Regions from separate parts of the Homo sapiens genome. Here region 2 is linked to region 1. The links come from fine-mapping of genetic effects on gene expression. A gene starts in region 1. The other region holds a variant in brackets. All regions are shown on one strand. Distances are between the middles of the regions. Region 1 holds the start of MEF2A (myocyte enhancer factor 2A). Region 2 overlaps LOC105371019 (a long non-coding RNA gene).

What was found. PIP is the estimated chance that this variant, and not a neighbour inherited with it, causes the effect. A credible set is the group of variants that fine-mapping cannot tell apart.
Region 2: its variant is the best candidate, but not a certain one, in a credible set for the expression of MEF2A in testis (GTEx, PIP 0.60).

Annotation. Positions count from the first base shown.
Region 1 is chr15:99,563,073-99,568,449 of GRCh38, reverse strand. It overlaps MEF2A (myocyte enhancer factor 2A), which reads right to left and starts at 2,466. Exons shown (of 12, transcript NM_001319206.4): 1 at 2,346-2,466. RefSeq lists silencers at 1,966-2,015, 2,856-3,295 and enhancers at 1,195-2,168, 2,169-3,144.
Region 2 is chr15:99,496,637-99,502,013 of GRCh38, reverse strand. It overlaps LOC105371019 (a long non-coding RNA gene), which reads left to right. Exons shown (of 3, transcript XR_001751710.2): 3 at 2,894-4,517. Among named protein-coding and RNA genes, the nearest start is that of LINC03080, 64 kb to the right of the region's middle. RefSeq lists an enhancer at 1-27. The variant T/C (reference allele first, on the strand shown) is at 2,556.

The DNA of each region.
Region 1 (5,377 bases):
CCCACAATGCATGATGGAAAAGGCAAATTGTAACGAAATTGCTTTGAAAAACATAACATCACCATTTGAAACAACTCAACCTTTTTAAGAGATTATTTCCAACTGCATTTACAAAAAAAAATCCTTGTCACACATACCCATATGAAAACAAACTCTAAGAATACAGAAGGAAATTATTCTCAAACCATAATTCAACATGGTGACATTACAATTATTTCTGGGTGTCAATAAGCTATTTTCCTTCCACTGAACACCCCCCAGAATTTAATTTTTTAAAAAACTTTTGAAGGCAAGTAAAGTGTAATTTTAACACTTTTGTTCTAATATGAAATCAAACCACAATTTTATATATAACCATAGTGTGAATTAAAGGAAATAGGTAAGCAAATAATTGCGTTTAGAGAGGTCACCATTACTTCACAGTCACTGTTTTCACTAAGTAGCTACTGGAACCACACTCTTCAACAAAACTGTTAATCTAGAGTCTACAAACATTCAAATCACCAGTTTTAGCTCTTCAGAGTACTTTTGATTATTGTAACACCATTATCACAACTTTTTGCAACAATGCTCACTGAGAATTAAAATAAAGGTGATTCTATTGTCAATGTGTCACCATATATAACAAATACTGATCTTAATGTTTTATGATATACAGGTGTGTGTTTATGACATTTAATATAAACTAATCTAAATCAGCATCTGCTTTAGTGAAAACTCTTGATTCCCTAAAACAAAAGTTGTAATTTACAGAAAAAGAAATGGAGACTGAGCTCTCCAAAAATACACACACACACACACACACACACACACACACACACAGTACATACAAAAGCCATAAAGGCACAATGCAGTCATTTTTATCCTCACTTCCTAAATTCATATTAAAAGAAATGTCATTTTTGTATGTTTAAAAAAGAACTATTTTGTTTACCTTTTCCACAGACTGTTCAAGAACTGCCAAGGTAACACAGATTCTAAAACTGACAACTAGAGTACTTAGCAGTTGCCAAAACAACACAGCTGGATTCTTAAAGGGAAAGTACTCTTGGGTAATGTACACCTAATTACAGCTTTAGAGAACCTCCTCTTCATATAGTAATAGATGATACAAGACACATGGGAAACATACTGTGCTAAAAACCCGAAAAAATGTTAAGACAATGTTTGTTTAAAAATACATATGCTATTGTTAACACATCACAGCAGGCCTTTCTAATAGGGCATTTATTGGAATCCCAATCTCACTGTAAACTAAAACGCAGGTTAACACTATGTTATATTCAAGCTACACACGGTTCCCTGCTGGACCATAACAGGAGGCTCGCTTCACAGCTCCGGAATCTATTTCGGATGTGAGCAACAATTCTATAGTTACACTTTTAAAGAAAAACTGTTTTCTTATTCAGGATTGCTCACCTTTTCCAAACTTGTTTGCACTATCTCACTTACTTTAACCCTCACAGCTCAAAGGCATGAAATCGAGCCAAAAAGCAAAGTTTCTAACACAAAAAATATTTTCTGCGAGCTGGGATCTAGCCGGATGGCAGGGGTTCAGCCAGCGGTTCCCTGTGCAGCCCCTCTGTCCCCGCGACGTCTCCCCGCACGATCGGGCGTCCGCAACCGCAGGTGTCCGCCCCAAACACCGACCCCGCCACTGACATCTACACACTCACAGAATTCGTACCTAAGCGTTCCACCCCGTTAGACCAATCTTCTCCCAAAGCAGAAGTGGGGGAACTTCTTCAAGTCCAACAGGGCAGAAGGCCCCCCGCACTTGGGGCTAATCCCTTCGGGGAGACCCCCGGGCTTGGAGGGAAAAGGGGAAGGAAAGGGCCCTCAGAGCGCACCTTCTCCGGGGTCTCCCGAGAACTCCTTCAACTTTCAAGGAGGCGACGTCCACCACCGCCCCCCGGCCCCAAGGGGTGCGCGCCCGGGGAGGCTGCTCGCCACCAGCCCGCGCGACTGAGCTCCCCTCGGCCCGCCCAGCCGAGCCCCATCCAGCCCCACCGGCCCGCCCTCAGGGCACCCCGCCCCCACCTCCCCGGGCGCCTAGCTCCTCAGCGCCGACCCCGACCCGACCACCCCTCGCCGCCTCCCAGCACCCTACCCGCCTCCCAGCACCCTACCCGCCCCGCCAATGCGCGAACGCGACCCTGGCCCCCTCCAAGCCGGACACGGCCTCGTCCAGGGGTCCCCGGAGCCCCCCGGGCGACCCTCTCGGCCGCGCCGTCCCCCGCCCCAGCACCTCCACCCCAACCCCTACTCGGTCCCCTAAGCGAGACGCCGCCCCCCTCCAGCACTACCGGCGTCGCGGACTGAGCCCCGCTGCCCGCGGCCCTCACCGTATCTCCGGAGCAGCTGGCGGGCGCGCACACGCCGCAGCCCGGGCCCGCCACCAGCGCTTCGCGCCGCCCGGAGCCGCCTCTTTCAGCCCGGGACTCGCCGGGACATCCGCGCACGGATCCCCACACCGGGGCTATTTTTAGGAGACAAGCCTCGGCCAGACCGGAACTCGTTCTGTGCTGCGCGTGCGCACTACCTCCGCCGCCTCGGTGTCCCTCCGCAGCCCTGCCTCCCCTCCCTCCTGGGTTCCCTTCCTCGCTTCTCCCCATCAGTTTCTTTTCAGGACTGAATTATCCTCTCGGTGGGTTCTAGAGTAATTGGAATGGGAAAGACAAGGGTAGGGCAAAGAGAGTCACGGTGCTTGGAAGCGGGCGCTATTCCACAAGGACGTGGGGGCGGACTATGTTTTTCCGGGTGGGTGAGGAGACGATCACCTGGCACAGGAAGAAGATGACGGCGGCTTGGCGCCGGGGCCGCGGGTTGGAGCTCGCTTTCCTCTGAAGGACCGTGTTCCCCTGGAAGGGATACTGGTCACTTGATGAGGGCCCGGGCGCCTCCCAGGGCGGGGCGGCCCGGCGGCGTCGCGCCCTGCCGCCCCCGCTCCGCCGCTCAGCCGCCGCCACCTCCCTGACCAGCCCCCGGGAGCCCAGGCCGGGAGCGGCCCGGTGACGCGGCGCGTGGCAAATCGCCGCGCGTGGCCTCCAGGGCAGCCAACCCGGGCGGTGGGGCGGCGCGGCGCGACGGGACTGGGCGGGGCTCCCGGGGCGGGGGCGGGGCGCGAGGCCGGCTGCCGCCCGGAGTCCGGGGCCGGGCGGGTCCTTCGGGACGCCCGGGTCAGCCTCCTCCCTCCCTCCCTCGAGGCGCCCTTGGCCTCCCCGGGTGTCGGCTCGCCACGCCCGCATTGTGGCCAGGGCCGCACCTGTGCTCGCCCCGGGGCACGGGCAGGTCACCCTCAGGAGCAAGCACAAGGGGACTCTGGGACCCGGGCCCGGAGAGAAAGGGACTTGAAGGGGTCTCGAGGGCGAGAAGGCCCTTTCGGACTGGACAGCCGAGCTCCCCAGGTCCCAGGACAGTAGCAACCTCCTTATCGTGACTTAATAGTTTCTAGGATGCCTGGGGCGGTGAACTATGTGATGGACATTTTGCATATGACAGCTTATGTAATACTTACAAGGCCCCATGAAGCAGATTCAGTTTCTATTCCCATTTTACAGATGAGGAAAGGGAAGCTGAGCGCTAAAGTGACCTGTCAGGGTCACAGCTTCAGAGTAGGGCCCTGAGGACTTGAACTCCTGACCACTCTGCATGTTGCCTTTTCTGAGATAGGTGCAAAGGGGATAGGCTTGGGACAGCTGTTGTGTTTTCTGGGGCTACTGATTATGTTTATCGAGGTCTTTAGGAGATGAGCCATTGTTGGCCCTCTCATCCTGAAAGCCGCTCACCTCTGAAGAGTTTTTCGGGGCCACAGTGCCTGCATGTGCCCCCAGAGGTGCCTGTGTAATGGACACGAAGCCAAATGGTTGTTTGCATTTGAAGATGAGAAATTCAATCCCGCAGCACTTAAAACAAAGTGGTTGGGGTGGGTGAGCAGATGAGCAGAGGCTGTGAGTGGAGGAACTGGGAAGTTACAAAGGAAGCCAGAGACTGGCTGGCTTCCTCCCTCAAGGACAACGGGGCAATGTGCTGGGGAGAGCCCAAAACAAAGGCGGCACATAGACAGCAGACGCCAGAAAATAAACCTGGAGCTCTGCTCAGAGCTCCACAACACCAGTGTTCAGGGGAGCCAGCAAAAGGAACTGCAGGGAGGTTTTTAAAACATGTCAAAATGTGGTGTAAATCAGCAAGTCATGTGGAAATGCATGCTTTTTAACCTGCCAGAAGCTGCAGAGCCGGCTGGATTTGGCTCTTCTGCTCCAAGAGGACGAGAAGAGTTTAATACTTATCCTTTAAAACTTAGGGTCTGGAGTGGGGGCACAGTGATCAGTGGCCCTCTCCTTGCCACCTGCTGTCACCCTGGAAGAAGAGGCAATGAAAACAGACTGTTCCAAAAGATGTTTTCACCCTTATTGCTCCACTCCGGCTCCCACCCTTCCAGAAATTGAGCCTCCTGAGGCACAGAAGACTCAGCTCAGACTGCCCAGCCCTTACCCATTCCAATGCTATTGTTACCCTCAAAATGTCAAGCAGAGAACTCAACTATGAGTCCAGCCACAGCAGAAATGAAAAGAGTGTTTGCATCACCTTAAAGAGCACCTCTCTCCCCACCACTCTGCATGTCAAAGCCCTTGTCTGAGAATTGCAGGCAGTGGTAAGAAGGAAGGAAGGAAAGGAAGGAGAGAAGGAAAAGTGGAAGGCTAAGTTTAAGAATTGTGGAGCACAGCTATTAGCAGAGCACAATCACTGTTATTTGTAGTAAAAGCAACCAATTTTAGGAAATTGCCACAGCCTCTGTTTCAGCTGTTGAAAACCTATACCTGAAGTCTAGCGTCTCTAGCAACTTCGAGCGCTCAGAAAGACCCTGTGCCGAGCACTTACGTGTGCCACTGGCTTGGAGGGAACTGAGGAGCAGCATCTGTCAGTCTTTCCCCTCTGGCCTCCTTAAAGGCACTCAGGGGTCCAGATGTTTCTGAGCTGCAGGGACTGTGCACTGGGCCAGGCACTGAGATACAGAGGTGAGAAAGAGCAGCCCTTTCTTCAAAGGGGCTGGCAGGCCGTGGGGAGGATACACCTTAAAACACAACCCATCATGAGGGGTTTCCTAGAGTGCAGGAAGAGCACAGATGATGAGTGTCTAAGGAGGGACAAGAATTAGGGTAGGCTTCTTAGAGGACATAATGCCCACAGTGAATCTGGAAAACCTCCTGGTAGGATGAAAAAAGGGCCCTCACTGTGTCTTGATGAGAAGAATAATGCTCAAGCTGCCTAGAAGCCAAAGGAACCCCTGACGACTTGGCCAGCTTCTCCCTCACCTCTTCTTCCTGACACCCCACTTTCTCCATTCAGAAATTTGAGAAGCTTCTCTGTACACACC
Region 2 (5,377 bases), 66 kb after region 1:
TGAATTTCCGAATGGATTTCTTTAAACACATGGCAGTGACAATACTCTTTACAAAGCCCAGGCTTTGGTTTCTTCAAGTAAATTGAAGGTGAAGGGGAGGGACAAAGGGGCAGCAAGTCTCTTGAGAAGCCCACGTGTGCCGTGGCACCAGAAGCATGGAGGGGCCCCAGCGGATGGGCCACACGTGGTTTCCCAGAGCCCCCAGTTTCCCAGGGTGGCGCAGCCAACGTTTCCATGCCATGTAGAGAGGACAGGTGTGCCTGAGAGCAGGCTGCAGAGCCTTGGTAGTGGGATAAAGAGAACACGGGGCACCTGCTTAGGTCTGGCAACTGGAGAGTGGAGAGGCCACAGATACAGGGGGTAGCTGGGTAGGTGTCAATGTCCTGGGGCCAATGAACATTGACTGTCTGGGTTGCAGACACACGGTGCCTCCCAACCCGGAATACACCTCACTCAAGTTTAACACCTGGTGAGAAAGAGAGGAAAGAGGAATAAAAAAAATCCATAACTGATTCCATTTTTACTTAAAGGACAGTGAGAAAATTTTGATAGTGACTGAATGTAAATAAGGGGTTAGGAGCTGCACTAAATTCAATCAAAAAAATTAAGTAAGTTATTTGCCTGTATAAGCCTGAAAAATTTCAACCTTCCTCACCTCTTGGGGTTACCATAGGTTTTGGAACAAGGTGGAGATTGGGGCTAGAAAACCCACCGTCTTCCAACTCGGCTTTATCCTTCTCTTTAAGAACCAGGCTTTCTGCACTTGATGTGGTTACATCTTTGAACTTACTGGCAAGAAACATATGTCTGTAAATTGGCCTTGAAAAGTGATACCCATATGCAGGTTATAGAGAAGGGCTAGGATCCTTATTCCAGGAAATCCTCTGCTTTCCTGGGAAGAAGATTACTGCAGTGAATGAAAACAAGATGAAACAAAACCAAAGGAATCAATACATTCCATCTGCCTTTGCTGCTTCAGCCTGTTTTGGGAAGCTCAGGTGCAGAGGTTGTTGAGAGCCTGCTGAGAAAGTTTGCCGAAAAGGTCAGCATTCTTGGTCATCAGGGCTAGCCCCAGATCTGCTATTGCAGGGACTCTCTTCTGCACCCTCCAGCTTTATATTTTCTGGAAACATCTCCCCTGATCAAGCATGAATGGGACTGACCAAACCCTGCCTGCTTTGACGGCATGTTACCTTGCACAATACTCAGGCTAATAACACACACCCTCCCATGGGTGTTTGTTGTTTGGGGCCCTCCACCTTCGAGGACAGACACTGTCCTGTTTTGAACTCGAGGCAGGAACTTTGACACCTGCCCTTGGCTGTCTCAGGAGCTCCAGGAAGTGTCACTTTATGCCATAGTGAAGGTGCTCTTCTGTATGGCCCCTGCCTTCCTTTGCAGTAGACAACTCACCCCTCTCCAAAAATGCCACCCATGTTCACACTGCTGTGTCTTTAGACACATTATCTCAGCCCAGGATGCCCATCAGCCTGCCCTACCCCACTCCAGCTCCCTGCCTACTGCAATAGGATGTCCTAGACTCTGCTAATGACCAGGCGCCACAGGATGGAGAAGCCAGCGCACAGGAAACACGAATGGTGAAATCCAAGAAGCCACCCTCCCTTTTTTTTTTTTTTTTTTTTTTTTTGATCTGTCTCAACAGATCCTCACTCCGTTGCCCAGGCTGGAGTGCAGTGGTGCGATCTTGGCTCACTGCAACCTCTGCTTCCCAGGTTCAAGCAATTCTTGTGCCTCTGCCTCCTGAGTAGCTGGGACCACAGGCATGTGCCACCACACCCAGTTAATTTTTCTATTTTTAGTAGATATGGGGTTTCACCATGTTGGCTAGGCTGGTCTCAAACTCCTGACCTCAAGTTATCCGCCTGCCTAGGCCTCCCAATATGCTGGGATTATAGGCGTGAGCCACCACACCCATCGCAAGAAGCTACTCTGAGCTGAAGATCAATCAGTTTATCTAAAATGGGACTGGAAGGCAAGGTGTGGCTTGGACATTGACCAGATGTGTGGTGGTGATGGATCATTTGACCTCTCTAGGCCTCTACTTGCTCAGCTCTGAGCTGATGGGGCTAGATGGATGAGTCCTGTCTGCCACATTAGCCTGCGACTGTAAGTCTGGGTTTGCTCCAAGATGGTTCACCCACATGGCTTGTGGCAGGAGGCCTCAGCTCCTTGCTGCATAGACCTCTCCATGGGGCTGCCTGAGTGTCCTCACAACATGGCAGCCAGCTTCTCCAGTGCTAGTGATTTGAGAGCGACAAGGGCAGAAGCCACAATGTCTTTTATAGCCGTACCATCACTCGACCTTACTCCATCGGTCACGTGGGCCAACCCTGATCCGATGTAGAAGGGGACCACACAAAGCATTGATACTAGGAGGTGGGACTACAGATGGCCATATTGGAGGTGGCTGTCACCAAGCTCAAAATCCAAACTTAGTTAGGCTCATCTGAATTATCAAGAAATCGATCTGGAGGATTTCCTAGGAGTTCCTGCCCGCAGGGTTTGTATCCTGCCCCTTCCGTGCCCAGGAGTGA[T/C]AGGTCCTGTGGAGCTGGATACCAGAGAAAATCTTTTCATGACACCAGGCAATGCCAGACATAGAGTTGACAGTCAAGCAGGCGCCACAAAAGGGATCTGAGAGCCTAAGGCTTGGAAAGTCCAGAGGCTCAGCAAATGTAGGAGGGCCAAGTAGGAGCCAAGTTGGAGCTGAGTGCAGGAATACACGATTTCTTTCTTCTTCTTTTTTTTTTATTTTTGGAGGAGGGAATAAGTCATTCATAGTTAACATCAAAGTAAATGTGTTCAGATTAATACCTTGAATTATATTAATGTGCTTTCTTTTTTCACTCCTTATTTGTGATTTCCACCTACTTAGCCACAGTTTCCATTATCTTCATGAGCAGTAGCTGGAATGAAGGAGAAATGGAAAGTGGGAATGAAGACAGGATGCTGAGCTTCAGATACTTAAATAAACTCAAGAACAGGAGGACTGAAAGCCAAGATTTCAACTGCAAGAGCCGGGCCATTAAGAGAGGAAAGGGTTTCCTAAATTCGCATACATTTCTTTTAAATACAATAATCTTAGAGGACAAGCATGGGGTTTTCACCACACACCATAGTGTAGAGAAGGATTCACAAATGACCCAAGAGCAGTTCCCTGTCCCCCAGCAAGGTGAACAGCCCTTCTTGGGCTGGGATGTGGGGGGCAGAGATGAGAGACATTTTCAGTTAATGAGATTATTAGATTAAGACACTATACCTAGAGTGCAGGAGAGATTATGGACATTTCAGATGGTCCAAAGAAGAATCTGAAAGCTTGTGCTCCACTTTCTGTTTAGAATTCCAGGCAGAGACTGCCTTGCAAGGTGATCTACACCCATGCTGGGGGGCTTCAGTAGAGGAGAAATGATGGTGTGAAACGTTTAGATATGGAGGGAATCTGAGATGCCATAGAGGAGGTTCCCTGGGTTTCTGTGTGGCTTGGGTGAGATCTAGAACTTTCTGTGTGGGATGGGAGTGGGGAGCAGTAGTACTAAAAGGGTCGCGGGAGAGGAAGAGGTTGGTGCCTGGTAGGAGACAAACCCCTGCAGCTGGAGGCCAAGAGAGGATCACGGTGGGCAGAGCACATGGCCCAGGGGTGGAGCCGACCTCCAGACACCAGAAGAACAACCTAAGTTCCTCCCACACAGTCAGACTTGAAACTAGAGGACAGACAGAGAACCAGGAATGTCTACTTTGCCCCCATGAGGAATAGAAACAACTTCCTGACTATCCCTTGGTGGGACAGGAGGACTTTCAAGAGGATGAAACTCTGAAAAAGAGTTTACCCTGTGATTAATTAAATGAAATCCTCAATGGCCAGAGTAATTATACAAAGATTAAGTGTCAAATGGGAGAGAGTTTACCTGGAAGCAGTAAGATTCGTTGCTTTTATTGGTTCATTTGTTTTGTTTTCTGCTTTCGGTAGAAATGGATCTTCACGAGTCAGTTGAATTTGATTAAACAGAATTTAGCATTTCAGCCATTTGGGTGACAGTGGGTGCATTCTAAAGTCAGCACACCACCCAAAGTGATATATGAGGTGGAATGGGAGGGGTGGCAGGTATTCAGCTTAAAGGACCGGGATATCATGATCAGTGGCTACTGTTTTACTTTTAAAAACCTTCCTTTTCTGGGTCTAGAATATATAAAGAATGTCTACAAATCAACAACAAAAAACATGAACAGCCTAATTTTTTAAACAGGCAAATGAATTCAGTAGGTATCTCACAGGACAAATGAATGATCAGTAAGCACTGAAAAGGTGTTCAATGTCCCCAGTCATCAGGACAACACAAATTAAAATTGCAATAAGATAACATTTCACGTCCACTAAAATTGCTAAGGTGAAATACGATGAACATTGACAAGTGTGTGGAGACACTGGAACTCTTTATCATTGTGGATGAAGATGTGTCTAGCAGTTTCTTATGGCAGTAAATAAACATGCTTCTACCCCATGACCCAGCAGTCAGTTCCACTCTTAGTTATTAACCCAAAAGAAATGAAAACAAATGTCTACACACAGACTTATACAAGAATGTTTACAGTAGCCATACTCATAAGAGTCAAACACTGCAAACAATCCCAAGGCATGTCAACAGAAAGGATCAACAAAATGCAGCATCTCCGTTTAATGGAACATCACTCAGCAATACAATGAACCATCTTATTTTTTATCTTTTGAGATGGAGTCTCACTCTGTCCCCCAGGCTGGAGTGCAATGGCACGATCTTGGCTCACTGCAACCTCCCTCTCCTGGGTTCAAGCGATTCGCCTGCCTCAGCCTCTCGAGTAGTTGGGACTATAGATGCATGCCACCACACCTGGCTAATTTTTGTATTTTCATTAGAGACGGGGTTTCACCGTGTTGGCCAGGCTAGTCTCGAACTCCTGACCTCAAGTGATCCTCTCCTCTCAGCCTCCCAAAGTGCTGGGATTGCAGGCATGAACCACCAGGCCTCGTCAACAATCCATCTTCTGTTAGACCCACAACAAGGATGAACCTCAAAAAAAATTGTGCTGAGTGAAATAAGCCAGACACAAAAAAAGTATATACAGTATGATTTCATTTATATGAATCTCTAGAACAAACACAATTGATCTATGTTGGTACAAGTCAAAAGGTGGCCAGGAACATGAGGGAACTTTCTGGGCTGATGGTTATGTTCTATATCTTGTGTTTGATGGTGATTACATAAGCATATGCAATTGTCAAACCTGAACACTGAAGAGATGTGCATTTTATTCTACATAAATTATACCTTAAATTTAAAAAAAAAATTGAAGAAACCCCTCTTCTTAAAGTTTTGGCTCAAGT